2 separate regions of the Homo sapiens genome follow, and region 2 is linked to region 1. Evidence: fine-mapped expression QTL. A gene starts in region 1. The other region holds a variant in brackets. All regions are shown on one strand. Distances are between the middles of the regions.

The links.
Region 2: its variant is fine-mapped to the expression of CCDC8 in esophagus muscle (GTEx, PIP 0.97).

The regions. Positions count from the first base shown.
Region 1 is chr19:46,411,050-46,416,382 of GRCh38, forward strand. It overlaps CCDC8 (coiled-coil domain containing 8 subunit of 3M complex), which reads right to left and starts at 2,515. Exons shown (of 1, transcript NM_032040.5): 1 at 1-2,515. The coding sequence starts at 1,761. The coding sequence ends at 145. RefSeq lists enhancers at 889-1,722, 3,389-4,222, 4,223-5,055.
Region 2 is chr19:46,461,135-46,466,499 of GRCh38, forward strand. No RefSeq gene overlaps it. Among named protein-coding and RNA genes, the nearest start is that of PNMA8A, 7.7 kb to the right of the region's middle. The variant C/T (reference allele first, on the strand shown) is at 2,392.

The DNA.
Region 1 (5,333 bases):
GAACAAAACTTTAACAAGAGAATAAAGAGGGTTGTTAGGTGGAGACGTGGCCAGCACTCCACCTCCACTTTGAAGTTCAGAGGCAGAGCATCTCTCCCTCCCACACTTGGAGGGAGGGCCCGTGGGCTGTCTCTAGCCCTCACCTCACAGCTGGTCTTCTTGCTCTCCCTGCTCAGCTTCTGCTCTGGCCTCGGCCCTCAGCACCCTGAGGTTCCTGGCCTCTCCTGCCCTGGGGACTCTCTTGGGCAGGGTTGGCAACCGGGGAGTGTGCCAGAAGGCTCTCCGGCGCTTGCAAAACCACGAAAAGCGTCCAGGGGTCTGGAACCTCACTGTCTTGACCTGTTTCCGGGCCCTGGCTCCTGGAGCTGTTCCTGTGGTCCCTTGGGCAGCTGAGACTTCAGCTTCCTGGATACCTGGGGCCCCTGCCCTCTGATTATGTGCAGCCTCTGCCCTCTGGCCAGCCCGGGCCTGTGCCCTCTGATTATCTGCACCCTGGACAGCTGGGGCCCTTTCCCTCTGGTCATGTACGGCCTCTTCCCTTTGATTATCTGTAACCTCTGACCCCTGGTCAGCTGGGGCCTCCGCCCTCTGATTATCTGCAGCCTCTTCCCTGTGGTTATCTGTGCCCTGTGACCTCTGGTCAGCTGGGGCCTCTGCCCTCTGATTATCTGCAGCCTCTTCCCTCTGGTTATCTGCAGCCTCTGCCCCCTCCTCAGCTGGGGCCCCTGCCCTCTGATTATCTGCAGCCTCTTCCCTCTGATTATCTGCAGCCTCTGCCCCCTGGTCAGCTGGGGCCCCTGCCCTCTGATTACCTGCAGCCCCTTCCCGCTGGTCAGCTATGGCCTCTTCCCTTTGACTATCTGCAGCCTCTCCCCCCTGATCAGCCTCGATGTCTGCCCCCTGACCTGTGGGTGCTGTCTGCTCCTTCCTGCGGCGCCGAAAGGAGGCCCAGTTGATCTTGGGCCTCCATCGCCTAGGGGAAGCCTGGGGCACACAAACATCTCCCGCGTTTCCCAAGCGATCCCCCGGGCTGGTGCCCTCTGGCGCCGATGATACCCCTGCGCTCTCCACTGCGGTGGAGGCCAGCCGGGCCTCGCCCACCCCGGGGCCCGCCCTCGGCGCCCAACCCTTCACCCTCCGCTTCAGCTTCCCCCAGGACACCTGGCTGACATACTCCCGCCACCTGTCCGCTTTGGACAGCTGAGGCCCCAGGTTGTCCTCAAACATGGGCACTGGCAGGTTGACGCGGCGGCGGGCAGGCGGCGCGCTGGGCTGCTTCTCCTGTCGCCGGAGGAAGGCCTCGACCAGTTCCTCATCATCCTCACTCTCCAGGTCGCTTCCCAGGAACTTGCTGCCCAGGTAGCTGACGGGCATTTTGCGCACCTTCTTGCCCCGCCGCGGGCCCTGGCGGCTCTTGTCTCTGGAGGTCTCGAAGTCGCTGAACTCGCTGTCGCTGGCGTTGCTGCTGTCGTACGTGCCCACGACCAGCCGGGGCGGAGGAGTCACCATCTGCTGCACTCTCCTCCTCACTCGGGGCTCCTTGGGCTTTTTGGGGGGCTGGGGCGGGTGCGGGGTGCTCTTCTCCATGATGCGGGCCACGTCCTCCAGGGTGCGGCCCTCTTCTTCCAGGAACTGGGTCAGCCGCTCCCGAAATTCTGCTTCCTTGGTGGCGGGCTTAGAGATGACTCTCCAGACGCCCCCAGCCAGCCTGACCTCCCGGGGGATGAGCAAATAGTCGACGTCCTCCCCGATCTGCAGCATCCCCACCGTGGAGTCCTCCTCCTTGCGGAACACCTTGCCGATCTTCTTAAATGTCCCCACGGGCTTTAGGGCTTCCACGAGGACGTCCAAATCCACATCTTTGCAGACATCGGGGACGCTCCAAAGAATGAGGCAGTCGGGGGACGGCAGGAAGCCCCAGGGGAACCAGCCCCCCACGTGGCTTTTCTCGAGAGTCTTTAAGATCTCCAGGGTGATATCTGGGGTGAGGGGGCAATGAGCCCCAACAAACTACTGTAGCCCTTAGTCTTGAGGGAGGGACTGGATGGGGGGAGTTCCAGCAACGCTGACCGGAGAGTCTCACCTCCCTAGCCAGGGACGAGCCAAACGCCTCCAATCTCTTCGCCTGCAACAAGTACAGTCTTGACCAAGTCCGGCTCCCCCACCAAGGACTTGGGGGAATCAATTTCCAGGATGCCTACGTGAGCCGGGGGCGAGGTCAGTCCCAAGGCTCAAGGCCCACTCCAAGCTGGAAACGTGGTGTCCCAGCTCCAAGTTGGGGCGCGCGGGCTGCCAGCGACTCTTCCTGCCCCAGGCCCCAGGGACGCGGCTGGAACTTGGGACAGGACTTCGCAGACAAAGACGGTCCAGTCGAAGCTATTCAATATGGCCGAGGCGCTGGGAGGCCCCAGCCCGGGCCTCCAGTAGGGTCCCCCGCCCCCAGGCAGGCCGCCACCCAGCTCCAGGCTGACCTTGACGCGCCGCAGCCTGCCAGCCCGCGCGCTTAGAGCTCTGCACCGTGGAGCGCGCGGGCAGGAAGTTCCTCCTCGCCCTCCGCCAGAATGAGGCCCACCTTCCCCCGTCTCATCTTACACTCCCAGACTCTGGAAGACTGACAGGGGGGCTGTCCACTCCCTTCGGGGCGGCCTCCTTCCCCTCCCCCACAGGGGTGTGGCCGCGCCCCGGGCCTAGCTGGGCCCATTGCTTCCCAGCGAAGCGGCAGTGGCCCACGTCAGCACCTTTCCTGAAAGGCAGCGGTTCCCAAACCTGCCATCCGAAATGTGCAAGTTTCCAGCCAAGTCCGGGAGGTGGGTGTGCTAGTGGATTCTACTTTTTGAGAGCCACTGGCACCACAGATTAGCATTTTAAATTCACGCGACTATCGGTACCCGTACACCTATATGCGTGGGTAGAGAAATGGGTACCTGACTGCAACAGTCCCACTGTGGCGCTTGGCAGGTCAGGGCTCAATACATATTTTTGAGGGGATGAATAAACCCAAATGTTCATGGCCAGGCGCGGTGGCTCATGCCTGTAATGCCAGCACTTTGGGAGGCCCAGGTGGGTGGAACACTTGAGGCCAGGAGTTCGAGACCAGCCTGCCCAACATGGTGAAACCCTCGTCTCTACCCCGGGTGTGGTGGTGCGCGTGCGTAGTCCCAAGCTACGCGAGAGGCTGAGGCAGGAGAATGGCGTGAACCTGGGAGGTGGAGGTTGCAGAGATCGCGCCACTGCACTCCGGCCTGCGCAACAGAGGGAGACTGTCTCAAAAAAACAAAAGTGCAAAAAAACCCCTACAAATAAACAACAACAAAAAACCCTAAAAGTTCACGAGTAGAGACTGCCTCTATTTTATGGTAGTATCTTACAGTGAAATATTTTGCAACTTCGAAAAAAGAATGAGATGGCTAAGGATAGGCACGGTTTATGAGGCGCTTCCTATGTAGTAGGCACCATTCCCAGTGCTTTCTATGAATGAACTCAGGAAATCCTTGCTATAACAGGAGACTGGTAGCATGAGTACAATTCCCATTAGACAGCTGAGGAAACTGAGGCCCAAGGACATAAAACCACACTCTCAAGGTCACAGCCATGGGGAGTGGTTGAGTTTGGATTTGAATCCAGAATAGTCTGCCTTTTGTGTCGACCAAAGAGTCAAGATGGCCAGGCGCGGTGGCTCACGCCTGTAATCCCAGCCCTTTGGGAGGCTGAGGCGGGCAGATCACGAGGTCAGGAGATCAAGACAAGACCATCCTGGCTAACGCGGTGAAACCCTGTCTCTACTAAAAATGCAAAAAAATTAGCCGCGCGTGGTGGTACGTGCCTGTAGTCCCAGCTACTCGGGAGGCTGAGGCAGAAGAATCTCTTGAACCCGGGAGGCGGAGGTTGCAGTGAGCCGCGATCGCACCACTGCACTCCAGCCTGGACGACAGAGCAAGACTCCGTCTCAAAAAAAAAAAAAGAAAGAAAGAAAGAAAAAAAAGAATCAAGATGTGAACCAATGCTAGTCGCATTCGGCCGGGAGCTCGGTTCTTGAGACGCGAGTCTACCGAAGCTCCCGCCAGTTGAGAGGCGAGTCTGCCGAAGCTCCCGGCCGAAAAAGCCAAATCCTTCCTTAACCCAGTGTCTGAGGGGTTTTGTCCGTGGCTCCTCCTGCTACAGGACATGCGACTAGCATTGGTCCACATCTTTGGAACCAGGCATCCAGAGACATGTTGAATAGGCCTCGTTGTTAGGAACCCTCAGAGGTACATGGTAAGGCCAGTGCCATCAATCATCTTTTTACAGACGGTGAAACTGAGGCTGGTCTGAAGTTGCACAGCTCTGAGTGGTGGATCTAATATAATATTAGAACCAGATCTTGGGCACTAGCATTTAAAACACTAGCTGACGCTAAAGACACAGCTAATCCCCTTCTCCTAAATGTGTTGCACCATTTAACCACTTAGCAGCCACAATACTTGCAGCCACTCTTGCCTGGATGTGTACAAAGCCCCCTCACTGGGCTTCCCGCCTCCCCATCACTGCTTGCAATCCAGGCCCCATCCAGAAGCTGGGGGCATCTTTTAAAAACTTAGGTCCGATCTGTCTCTACTCTTTTGAAAATTCTCCATCTCAGGCTGGGCGCCGTGGCTCACGCCTTTAATCCAGCACTTTGGGAGGCTGAGGCGGGCGGATCACCTGAGGTCCGGAGTTTGAGACCAGCCTGGTCAACATGGCAAAACCCCATCTCTACTAAAAAATACAAAAATTGCCGGGCGCGGTGGCTCACGCTTGTAATCCCAGCATTTTGGGAGGCTGAAGCGGGTGGATCACCTGAGGTCAGAAGTTTGAGACCAGCCTGGCCAACATGGTGAAACCCCGCCTCTACTAAAACTACAAAACTAGCCTGTCTTGGTGGCGCATGCCTGTAATCCCAGCTACTCCGGAGGCTCAGGCAGGAGAATCGTTTGAATCCGGGATTCAGAGGTTGCAGTGAGCTGAGACCGTGCCATTGCACTCCAGCCTGGGCAACAAGAGCGAAACTCCGTCTCAAAAACAAACAAACAAAAAAAAGAAACGAACAAAAATATAAGAATTAGCCGGGCATGGTGACACATGCCTGTAATCCCAGCTACTGGGGAGGCTGAGGCAGAAGAATCGCTTGAACTGGGAGGCGGAGGTTGCAGTGAGCCAAGATCGCGCCACTGCCCTCCACCTTGGGCGACAGAGCGAGACTCCGTCTCAAATAAATAAATAAATGTGATCTTATTTAACTCATAAAGGAACCAGGCAAATTTTTAAAGAGGGAACGGAGGAAAAAGAGACGGGCCAGAGGGAAAGAAAAGATGTGG
Region 2 (5,365 bases), 50 kb after region 1:
TGGTGGTGCATGCCTGTTATCTCAGCACTTTGGAAGGCTGAGGCAGCAGGACAGCTTGAGGCCAGGACAAGCCTGGGCAACATAGGGAGCTGTCTCTATTAAAAAAAAAAAAAGTAAAACAATTAGCTGGGCAAGGTGGTGTGCTCTTGGGGTCACAGCTACTCAGGAGGCTGAGGCAGGAGGATTGCTTAAACCCAGGAGGTGGAGGCTGCAGTGAGCCGTGATCATGCCACTGTACTCAAGCCTGGGCAACAGAGTGAAATCCTGTCTTTTAAAAATTAAAATTGGCCGGGCGTAGTGGCTCACGCCTGTAATCCCAGCACTTTGCATGTCTGTAATCCCAGCTACTCAGGAGGCTGAGGCAGGAGGATGGCTTGAGCCCAGGAGGCAGAGGTTGTAGTGAGCTGAAATTGCACCACTGTACTCCAGCCTGGACAACAGAGCGAGACACAGTCTCAAAAAAAAAAAAAAAAAAAAAAGGAGAGTCACAGAAGAAACACCAAATCTTACCCTGGGCACTGGGATGATGCCTCATGTCATGTTGCCAAGCTGAGACCTGCCACGCATTCTCTTGCTATTATGTGGCCATTCAGGCCTGAACAAGAGCCAGGACCCAAGGGGTTTGCAAGAGTCATGCCTGAGTTTAATTAAGTGGGACAGATGTGCTATTTAGAACCAGGACACCTGGGAGCAAGTTTAAAGGCTTGGATGTGCCCTGCCTGTGATGAACTTTAGCACAGACCAGCACAGTTCCCTAATCCTCTTAATTGTTCATACCATTACAAAAAGTGCAAATCTAAAACAGAGATGAACAGAAAAAAATTATTGCATTATCGTTAATCTGACCACAGTGGCTAATGTTGCTTGAATAATGCATTTGGGTGCTTTTAAAAGTCTGCAGTCAGCCTGGGCAACATGGCAAAACCCTGTTTCTACCAAAAAATACAAAAATAGCTGGGCATGGTGGTTTGCACCTGTAGTCCCAGCTACTTGCAGAGGGGCTGATATAAGAGGATGGCTTGAGCCTGGAAAGTCAAGGCTGCCATGAGCCAAGATCACGCCACTGCACTTGAGCCTGGGTGAAGAGCAAGACCCTGTCTCAAAAAAAAATTAAATAAATAAAATTTAAAAAGTCTGTGATGTTTTATTTTTTAATGTGGGGAAAATATTAAAAAGTAAATTGGCCGGGTGCGGTGGCTCATGCCTGTAATCTTAGCACTTTGGGAGGCTGAGGCGGGCAGATCACGAGGTCAGGAGATCAAGACCATCCTGGCTAACACAGTGAAACCCCATCTCTACTAAAAATACAAAAAAAAAAAAAAAATTAGCCGGGCATGGTGACGGGTGCCTGTAGTCCCAGCTACTCGGGAGGCTGAGACAGGAGAATGGTGTGAACCCAGGAGGCAGAGCTTGCAGTGAGCTGAGATCGCACCACTGCAGTCCAGCCTGGGCAACAGAGCGAGACTCCATCTCAAAAAACAAACAAACAAAAAAAGTAATTTAAAAATATGTAGGTCGTGGTGGGGCACAGTGTCTCATGCCTGTAATCCCAGCACTTCAAAAGACTGAGGCAGGAGGATTGTTTGAGGCCAGGCATTCAAGACCAGCCTGGGCAACATAGTGAGACCTCATCTCTACCAAAAAAAAAAAGTTAGCTGGGCATGGTGGTGCGCATCTGCAGTCCTAGCTACTCAGGAAGATCATTTAAGCCCAGGAGTTTGAGGCTGCAGTGAGCTGTGACCACACAATTGCACTCCAGCCTACATGATGGAGCAAGAGCCTGACTCTTAAAAAAATTTTGTTTTTAAATAATTGAAAATACTACTCAAACACACATGAATCTCAAAAACACGATGCTGGCCGGGCACGGTGGCTCACACCTGTAATCACAGCACTTTGGGAGGCTGAGGCGGGTGGATCACGTGAGGCCAGGAGTTCGAGAACAGCCTGGGCAACATGATGAAACCCCGTCTCTATGAAAGATACAAAAATTAGCCGGGCGTGGTGGTGCACACCTGTAGTCCCAGCTACTTGGGAGGCTGAGGCAGGAGAATCGCTTGAACCTGGCAGGCGGAGGTTGCAGTGAGCCAAGACTGTGCCACTGCACTCCAGCCTGAGCAACAGAGTGAGATGCTGTCTCAAAAAAAAAAAAAAAAAAAAAGGCCGGGGCGTGGTGGCTCACGCCTGTAATCCCAGCACTTTGGGAGGCTGAGGTGGGCGGGTCACCTGAGGTCAGGAGTTTGAGACCAGCCTGGCCAACATGGAGAAACTCTGTCTCTACTAAAACTACAAAATTAGCCAGGCGTGGTGGTGGGCACCTGTAATCCCAGCTACTCGGGAGGCTGAGGCAGGAGAATCACTTGAACCCGGGAGGCGGAGGTTGCAGTGAGC[C/T]GAGATGGCGCCATTGCACTCCAGCCTGGGCAAAAAGAGTGAAACTCCCTAAAAAACAAAAACAAAAACAAAACAAACAAAAACACTATGCTGAGGAAAAGAAGCCAGACACCAAAAAAACCATATGCTGTATGACTCCACTTACAGCACTCCTGGGACAGACACACTGAGCTTTGGCTGGAAAAATCATTACAGTGCTCACCTCTGAGAGCTGCGGCGGGGACCGACTGGGAAGGGGCACAGGGAGGCTTTCTAGGATGATGATATTGTTCTGTAACTTGTCGCAGGGGTGGGTTACACAGGTGCCTGCCTATGTCCAAACTTATCCTTATCAGACCGTTCACTTAAGATCTGTCCATTTCACTGTATATAAATGTTTTATTTTAACTAAAAAATGAAAATGTAAAAAAAAGGAATAAATGAATAAGTAAATCAACACAACCCACTTCTTTCTCCTTGGCAGCTCTGCTAACCAGATCCCCAAATGGGCAGCTTTTTCTTGGGCCTCCTGGGTCCAGCTACTGTCACCTCCCCACTAGGCTCCCAGCTGCCACCTCACCCTCTGCAGTCTGTTCCCCACCAGGCTTCCAGGGGGAGCCTGGAAACAACCTATGTAGGATCCTGACGCTGTGTTCAGCACCCTCCCATGGCTCCCATCTCTCAGATTAAAGCTGGAATCCATCCTGGCCGCACCTGTGGGGCTTTGCACACCAGCCTCCAAAGCCCCCTGCCCTCTTGCTCCTCACCTCCTCCTTGCTTTTTTATTTTTATTTTTTTGAGACAGAGTCTTGCTCTGTCGCCCAGGCTGGAGTGCAGTGGTGCGATCTCAGCTCACTGCAGTCTCAACCTCCTGGGTTCAAGCAATTCTCCTGCCTCAGCCTCCCAAGTAGCTGGGACCACAGGCACGCGCCATCACACCTGGCTAATTTTTTTGTATTTTTAGTAGAGATGGGGTTTCACCATGTTGGCCAGGCTGGTCTTGAACTCCTGACCTCAGGTGATCTGCCCGCCTTGGCCTCCCAAAGTGCTGGGATTACAGGTGTGAGCCACTGCGCCCAGCCTTACTCACTTTCTGAAACAGATTAGAGCCTCCCTCCACGATGACTGTTCCCTCTGCCCAGGAGGCCGTTCTTGGCCAACTGCTTGTCTCACCCCTCACCCCCTTCAGGTCTGTTCAGACATCCAGTTCCCAGAGAGGCTCCCCCAACCATTGTAAGCGACAGCCAGCCGTTTCTGCACACTCACCTTGCCTGCCTATCTTCCTGTTATATTTTTCACGGCAGAGCTCCCCACCCCTCCACCTGTGTCTATATAAGGTCTGTCCTCACTCAAACGTCAGGCTCCAGGAAGCCAGGACTCTGTCTTGCTCCTGGCTGTCGTACAGCAGATTCTCAACGAACCTTGCTTGAATGGCAGCATGGGCAACCAGGACACTTTGCCCTCGAGCCCTGCTGGTGGCATCCACAGCTCTCCATCTTCCTGCAAACACTCCGGGCCAGCGCCTCCCCAGACGCACCCCTGAACAGAACACCTCCACCCGGGGCGATGAGGTTTCTTTGAAGAGAGCTTTCATGTGCCCCAACCTTGGATTCCCCCCATTTTTAGGGCACGTAGGCCTTTCATACTTTACTGACAGCCTGGGTGTAACCAGTAGGAGTGACTATTATTGTGGGAGGTACTTAAACATCTTGGTCAAATAGGGCTTTTCCCATTGTGGGGGTGTGGGGGCACCCAATAAATAGAGCTTCATCCAGATGCTTCTATGAGTACACGGCAGTTCCTAACGAGCTCCGCGTCCTCAAATCCCAGCTTCCCTTTTGGTCTCTTTCGCATCTTTCCTCATAATCTCCATTCACTTTCACAAAACCTCAACCTGGACCCCTAAGGACACTTCCGTTTCCCCAAGTCTGAATTATTCCACCTGAAGCTCTCCAACCTGTATTATTAATAGAATTCTTGGCTGGGCGTGGTGGCTCACGCCTGTCATCCCAGCACTTTGGGAGGCTGAGGTGGGCGGATCACGAGGTCAAGAGATCAGAGATCGAGGCCATCCTGGCCAACATGGTGAAACTCCATCTCTACTAAAAAAAATACAAAAATATTAGCTGGGCGTGGTGGCGCACCCCTGTAGTCCCAGCTACTTGGGAGGCTGAGGCAGGAGAATCGCTTGAACCCGGGAGGCAGAGGTTGCAGTGAGCTGAGATCATGATACTGCACTCCAGCCTAGGAGACAGAGCGAGACTCCGTCTCAAAAAAAAAAAAAAAAAATTCTCAGGAGAAACTGTTTAAGACGCAGATAACTATGTACAACCCCGAAGAGATCCTGAATCAGCAGGTAGAGCCACGAAATGGTACCTTGAACAGATTCCAAGTGACTGATGTAGTGGCCACCCTGGTTCAGGAGTTCCTGGGGAGGGGCAGGGGAGGGCCAGAAGAAAACTATATTTTTAGCTAAAAGACCTCAGCTTCTGGCTTGGCATGGTGGCTTACACCTGTAATCCCAACGCTTTGGGAGGCCGAGGTGGGCAGATCACTTGAGCCCAGGAGGTAGAGGCTGCAGTGGGCTGAGACTGTGCCACTGCACTCCCACCTGGGTGACAGAGCGAAACTCCATCTCAAAAAAAAAAAAAAAAAAAGACCTTGGCTTCTGTGTGAGGGAATAGGAAGGGAGGGAAAGGTTTTCATTTTCCAGCTGTTTATAAAAAAATAAACTGGTACTTTGAGGTAATTTGCGTCACCAGATACCTATTCTAGAAACCCCAAGATCTGTGGGACATCCTTCCACATCAGTGGAAAGCCATTCGCAAAGAGGACAAACGGCTTCTTCTCTCATGGATCATTAACAATTCTCAAAGCTTGAACCCGTATCTGATAACCAGTCACATCTGGCTGGGGGCACTGTTTGAGGAAAGGGGAACCCTTTCCTCAAATTTAATAGTCCATGCAATCCTCACCTACAAGAGACTTAACAGGA